Linked DNA regions of Homo sapiens. The protein of the gene in region 2 purifies or fractionates together with the protein of the main gene of each other region. This does not show direct contact. Each region holds a gene or a part of one and is shown on either strand. Other genes may lie near its edges.

Region 1 (3,360 bases), on a different chromosome or scaffold from region 2:
GAAAGCGATTGTTTATGATTCCAGTCTTCTCTTTTTATTTCATTCCTAGTAACAAGTTCACTATTTTAGAAAATGAAAATGTACCGCATTTTTATTGAGAATAATATTTATAGCATAAAGGGATTCAAATGCACTTACAAGACAGTAGGAACCAGGCACCTACTTTATTAGTAGATTGCCAAATGGATTTGGATGTGTGACTATGTGATGTAAAATTTCTCCTACATTTATATTAGTAAGTCATTGTTATTTGTAAGCATGACAATAATCACTTTATTAAATATATAGTATTATTAAGCAGGATTCTGCCTGTATTTTATGTAAAATACGAATAAGTTTTGAAAGACAACTATGAAAACATATTTATACTAATTTATGTACTGATGTGTATTTGGTCCTTTCGTTTATAAAAAATTAAACAATCTTTAAACTGTGGACTTTTCATTTGGTTCTGGTTTGAGTTTGTGTCCTGTCACATAGATGGTAGGTTAAGTACATGGTAGAAAAGTTCATTTTAGAAATCTGAAAATCAGGCCAGGCACAGTAGCTTATGCCTGCAATCCCAGCACTTTGGGAGGTTGAGTAGGGCAGATCACGAGGTCAGGAGATCGAGACCAGCCATGACCAAAATGGCACAACCCCGTGTCTATTAAAAATACAAAAATTAGCTGGGCGTGGTGGCACACACCTGTAATCCCAGCTACTCGGGAGGCTGAGACAGGAGAATCGCTTGAACCAGGGAGGCAGAGGTTGCAGTGGAGCCAAGATCACACCACAGCACTCCAGCCTGGCGAAAGAGCGAGACTCGATCAAAAACAAACAAAAAAAAAACAAAGAAAGAAATCTACACTGGGGAAGAGAAGGAATATGGATCTTTGTAGACTTAACATGAGGGAGATTTTGTACAGTTTCTCACTTTGACTATATCCATTTCTCTGTGCCAGCAAAAGGCCTTTTGGAGGCACATTGGCTGCATTATTGCAGAATTTGTTTTCATTACCTTTGTGTTAAATTTCCATGACATGTTCTACCCTTTGGCTCTCCTGTAGAATGACTGTTGCAGAATTTTGCTTTTGTAAGAGTTGCTACATGAGAAATGGTCTTGGAAATGTTGTCTGGAGGCATGTGTTTCTCTTTCCCTTACTTCCTGAATTAAGTTTTATTTGGTTTGTAAATCATTCTTCTCAATTTTTTTTTTTCCATTTCAGAGCCACTCAGTACACATGCATGTTGCTTAGATATTTGTTAGAGCCCAAAGCTGGCAAAGAGAAGGTGGTAATGAAGCTCAAGAAACTGGAGTCCAGTGTGAGCACTGGTCGTAAATGTAAGTACCCTGTTTCTTGAGGGACAGTGACTCCTGGTTTAGAATCCTCAGCCTCAGACCCTGTAATTCACGGAGTAATTTCTAGGTCATTAATTTCTAGTCAATCAAGTTTATTGGTGAAATTGACCAGTAAGGCTGTCCTCATGGCACAACAGGTTTGAATGTGTTGCTGCAGACCATTCATAAACACCCTCTTATGTTCACATCTGGTGCTACACCTTATCTTTCTGCTGAATCATAACCAGTGAGACAGACAACGTGTTAGTTCACCTTTAGTTCTTAGAATCATAGTATGTTTTAGCAGTCTCTGACATGAGCTTCTGCTCCTGTGAGCCCCTTTATTCTAAACAAGAGTGGAATAGTTATATCCTAGACCACCTGCCTTTTTCCTTTATTGAGGAGTGCTAGAGGATATATAGGTGGATACATTTTTGTAGACCATGTTTGAGGTAGGTTTCATGCCAAAGGTAAAAAGTGAAATCAATATTTTGTGTTTATTAAATTTACTTTAATAATATGTCATACTGGGAAATCCAGTACTTTTCATAGCAATTGCCTTTCTGAGTCTTTGTTGTTTGATGAAAACCAGATGTTGCTATAGTAGGTTAGCAGAGGCATTAGAATGGAATGTAGAGCATCACATATTGATCAGTTGGTTTTGAGCACCTATGTTATATAGGTACATTCCTGAGCCTTATGGGAGAAGTAAGGTGCTTTAAATAATGATATATAAGATTTAGTGCCAAACTTGTTGGCTGAGGTAGAGGAAAAGAAAGGTGTTTTAGAGGAGGTGGAACTTGAGGTGAGGCTAGAGAGAAGGAAGAAGAGAGTTTCGAAGGGCAGTTTTCTCTAATAAAGGCTCAGAACTGAGTAAACCATTGTATGGGAGGATCATTGTCAAACTACAAAACTAGTTTGACAGATTTAAATTGTCAAGCAGAGGGATGGGAAGGGTAGGGCGAGCTTTTCTGGATGGCACTGAAGGCCAAGATTAGAAATTCTATTTAGATTATTTAGAATGTTGGAGCTGAAAGGTCCTTTAGAGGTCACTAGTCTGTAAGTCCAGAAGGGGCTTATCCAGGGTCATTCAGCCAGTTAGTGCAAGGGCCAGAACTGGAACCCAGAATCTATATACTAAAATAGTCATTACATATACTATTTTACTATTTTATGTTATTTTTGATAACATAATACAAAACATTCTTTTTTTTTTTTTTTTTTTTTTTTGAGATGGAGTCTCACTCTGTTGCCCAGGCTGGAGTGCAGTGGCATGATCTTGGCTCACTGCAACCTCCGCTTCCCAGGTTCAAGCAATTCTCCCACTTCAGTCTCCCTAGTAGCTGGGACTACAGGCATGCGCCAATATGCCTGGCTAATGTTTGTTTTTATTTTTTATTTTTTTTAGTAGAGACGGGGTTTCACCACGTTGGCCAGGCTGGTCTCAAACTCCTAACCTCAGGTGATCCGTGCACCTTGGCCTCCCAAAGTGCTGGGATTACAGGCGTAAGCCACCGCGCCCAGCCCCTTCTGAGATTATAAGTTTTCTGAGAGTAGCTACTTCTGAGCACCTCCTGAGTCTAAGGTATGATCCTTCAAGGAAAAGTACTTCTTTTGTATCCTCCGTGACATTTAGTACTATAACTCTTTCTCAGAAGGTGTTCAGTAAGTACCTATTGATTGATGCATCCCTGATTAATTGAATTACGTGCTCACATAAGGACGTGCCATTGCAATGGTTGATTTAATTCAACTAGGAGCTCTGTGACAATATTATTAATTGTTCTATCCATTAAATTCTACCATTTCTACTTTATCTTCTTGACAATAGGTAGCCAAAAGGGGTTTGGACCAGAGAAATGGCAAAATGATAATAGTGTTTTTTAAAAAGACAGTCTTTTGTCTGGAAAATAAATAAAATGCAAGGCATCAGACTCTCCAAGAGAGTATTGCATCTGGAGTTCATGTTATCATAGTACCTTCCTTCTAAAGAAGTGTAGCTGGTAAATAATCAAATGTAACAGTCCACACTCATGATT
Region 2 (3,500 bases):
ACTGTGACAGAATGGGCAGGGCCTGGTCACAACTCCTCTGGCCACTGGGTACCCAGGGTGCAGGATGCAGGATAGCGCCAGTGGCACAGCAGGTGGGAGCCTCCTGGGGGGCTAGGGAAAAACACTGATTCCTGGGCTCCCCAGACCCACAGAATCAGAAGCTCTGGGCCAAGCGCGATGGCTCACACCTGTAATCCCGGGACTTTGGGAGGCCAAGGCCGGTGGATCACCTGAGGTCAGGAGTTCAAGACTAGCCTGGCCAACATGGTGAACCCCTGTCTCTACTAAAAATACAAAAATTAGCTGGGGGTGGTGGTGGGCGCCTGTAATCCCAGGTACTCGGGAGGCTGAGGCAGGAGAATCACTTGACCCCGGGAGGTGGAGGTTGCAGTAAGCCAAGATCGCACCACTGCACTCCAGCCTGGGCGACAGAGGAAGACTGTGTCTCAAGAAAAGAATCAGAAGCCCTGGGCGCCGGACCCAGGCATCTCCATTTAGCAACCTCCTGGCTGATGCTCCGGCAGCCCTGGGCCTTAGGGCAGATGTCTGGTCATGATGAGCACACATGGAATGCTCTCCACCCACTCCCCCTGCTCACTGCAAATCCAGAGAAATGATGAAAAACCACATGCCCGAAACAAGAATGCCGCAGCAGGCGGGGCACACAGGACTTCGATGGCCGTGAAACAATTCCATTTGATTCTGCAAGGGGGGACACGTGTCAGTGTCCAAACCCATAGGATGCCCAAAACCTAGCGTGAACCCTAACGTGAGCTACTCACTTGGGGTGATGATGGATCCATGGAGGGGCATCAGTTGTAACAAATGCACCATGTGGATGCTGCCAGTAGTCGGGGAGGCTGTGTGTGGGGGTATATGGGAGCTCTCTGAACGTTATGCTCAATTTTGCCATGAGCCTAAAACTGCTCTAAAAAAATAAAGTCTGGGCCGGGAGTGGTGGCTCACGCCTATAATTCCAGCACTTAGGGAGGCCAAGGCAAGTGGATCACCTGAGCCCAGGAGTTGGAGACCAGTCTGGGCAACATGGCAAAACCGTGTCTCTACAGAAAAAAAATTACAAAAATTAGCCAGATATGGTGGCACAGCCTGTGGTCCCAGCCACTCAGAAGGCTGAGGTGGGAGTATTGTTTGAGCCCAAGGGGCGGAGGTTGCAGTGGGTCAAGATTGAGCCACTGCTTTTCAGCCTGTCTCAAAAAAAAAAAAAAAGTTTATTTAAGCAAAAAAGAAAGGAACCAAGGCTGCCCCTAAAATACAAACCAGAGGTCACGAGGCACCCAGAGGAAGGTGGCGGAAGAGAGGCTGTGAGCCAAGGCCCCCCTCTGACCGGAGCCCCAGGAACATCCAGGCTGGGCCCAGGCACCCTCCCCCAGGTCTCCCAGCACACAGGGAAGGCCAGCAGCACAGACACCGCTGCCTCCAGGGGCCATGGCCATGAAACATGACCCTTTTGAGACAGCCAAAATGCACAGGCAGGGTATTAGGTCAAAGGCTGGAAAAGAACCACCCAAGCTTGAACAGTGGGAGTCTGGGTTGGATTGTGGGTAATTCGAATCTTCTACTCTGAGGTTTATCTATTTTCCAGATTGTCTACGGTAAGCATGTAATTAGGACATCTGTGCCGGGGGGAAAACAAGAACTACTGAGAGTCAGAGCCTCGACCAGGGACAAGCAAAGCTTCCCCCAGAAAAAGGACACAGCCTGCCTGAGGCTGGGGGCAGCCGCACCTCACCCCAGCGATCTAAGAGCCCTTCACAGCCACTGAAACATGGAGACCAGGGGGCCCAGCTCCTGCTGGTGTTTTCAGGGGCAGGGGATTCTGACTCAGCGCATTTGCAAAGAGGAAAATGTTTGGGAGGAAACCATTACTAGAAAGTTCTAGAAACTATATGGTTTTTTGGAGGCACAGAACTAGTCAGGAAACTGCTGACTGTTTTCTCTGGGGTGTCGGCTGACAGCAACGCCAGCAAGACTCAGGGACCCGGGTAAAGGCCACTCCGCTGGCTGCTTCTCACAGGCCCTGGAGTTACTTCTTCTTTCTAAGTGTGGTCAGCAGAGTCATGACCCCTTCTAAAATGTCCATGTCCTGAACCTGTCAACATGTTCACCTCCAAGGCAAAGGATATTTTGCCGATGGGATTAAGCTAAGGATTTTTTCTTTTTTTGACACGGAATCTTGCTCTGTCGCCAGGCTGGAGTGCAGGGGTGTGATCTCGGCTCACTGCAACCTCCACCTCCCCAAATTCAAGCAATCCTCCTGCCTCAGCCTCCCAAGTAGCTGGGATTACAAGTGTGCACCACCAAGCCCAGCTAATTTTTTGTATTTTTAGTAGAGACAGGGTTTCACCATGTTGGCCAGGCTGGTCTAGAACTCCTGGGCTCAAGTGATCCACCCGCCTTGGCCTCCCAAAGTGCTGGGATTACAGGCATGAGCCACCACGCCCAACCTAAGCTAAGGATCTTGAGATGGGGTATTACCCTGGATCATCCAGGTGGTCCCCATGTCATCATAGGGGTCCTTATAGGAGGGAGGAAGGAGGATGAGGGTCAGGGAAGGAGGTGTGACGCTGAAAGCAGAGGTCATGCTTGGAAGATGAAGGAAGGGGCCATGAGCCAAGGAATGTGGGTGGCCTCCAGAAGCTGGAAAATCCAAGGAAACGGACCTCCCCCTGGGACCTCCAGAAGGCATCAGCGCCTGCTGACACTAGCCCAGGGAGTGTTCTGACTTCCAGCCTTCAGAATCCTAAGATAAGAAGTTTCTGTTGCCCAGCACTACAGAGTTGTGCTAATTTGTTCCGACAGTTATTCTAAACAAATACACCCACAAAAGGAAGAAACAACAAAACCTCCAAGGAAAACTCTAAGAGGCAAAGACCCACCGCAGTCTGAAGCCTGTGCTGTTGCTGGGGCCGCTGCCACTTTGCTAAGGAGGCACCGCCCAGGGACCTTGGGTGCTCCCTTCTGGCCCATGCCACTTACCTGGCAACCCCCAGGAGCAGAGAGAGGGCCCACAGGGTTGTACTCAGCGTCCACCACCGAGAAGAGTCCACGTGGAGGACCCGGGCATCAGCCGCCCAGGCCACGTGCTCACAGGGGTAGTAGAGCTGGTCAGCCAGGTTCCCTAGGACGGAGACACAGCGGACAAAGGCGTCCTCCTCCTGCAGGACCAGGAGCAGAGGGGGCCTAGGGTCAGACTTACCCACTGCCCATTTTAGCACCGTAGCCATGCCAGGTGGCAGAGAGCTATTTCCTGACCCCAGTCCCTGGGCCGTGTCCAGGCCTGGCAGGCCCCGCGGGAGAAAGGCTCTGGGGCTGGGGTCCCCGCACAGGCCTGATTTCTGTGTCTCGGCAGCACGGTGCTCAGTGCCCCTTGGAGGGAGGCTCTCAACGCAGCTGTGCAGTGCAGTCCTCTGCAGAGCTTCAAAAACCCCATGCCCAATGCCAGCCGTGAGGATTCTGCCTCACTCAGCCTGGGGCAGGCC

Evidence for each region.
Region 1: the proteins of PEX11G (region 2) and PEX11A purify together in Homo sapiens (affinity purification with western blotting; one study listed by BioGRID and IntAct). This does not show direct contact.

Annotation. Positions count from the first base shown.
Region 1 is NC_000015.10:89,684,395-89,687,754, reverse strand, and holds part of PEX11A (peroxisomal membrane protein 11A), read left to right. Parts: intron 1-1,208; coding exon 1,209-1,324; intron 1,325-3,360. UniProt on the Homo sapiens protein: May be involved in peroxisomal proliferation and may regulate peroxisomes division. May mediate binding of coatomer proteins to the peroxisomal membrane. Promotes membrane protrusion and elongation on the peroxisomal surface.
Region 2 is NC_000019.10:7,479,036-7,482,535, forward strand, and holds part of PEX11G (peroxisomal membrane protein 11C), read right to left. Parts: intron 3,177-3,500; coding exon 2,998-3,176; intron 955-2,997; exon of another isoform or gene 861-954; coding exon of another isoform or gene 783-860; exon of another isoform or gene 703-782; coding exon of another isoform or gene 534-702; exon of another isoform or gene 1-533. UniProt on the Homo sapiens protein: Promotes membrane protrusion and elongation on the peroxisomal surface.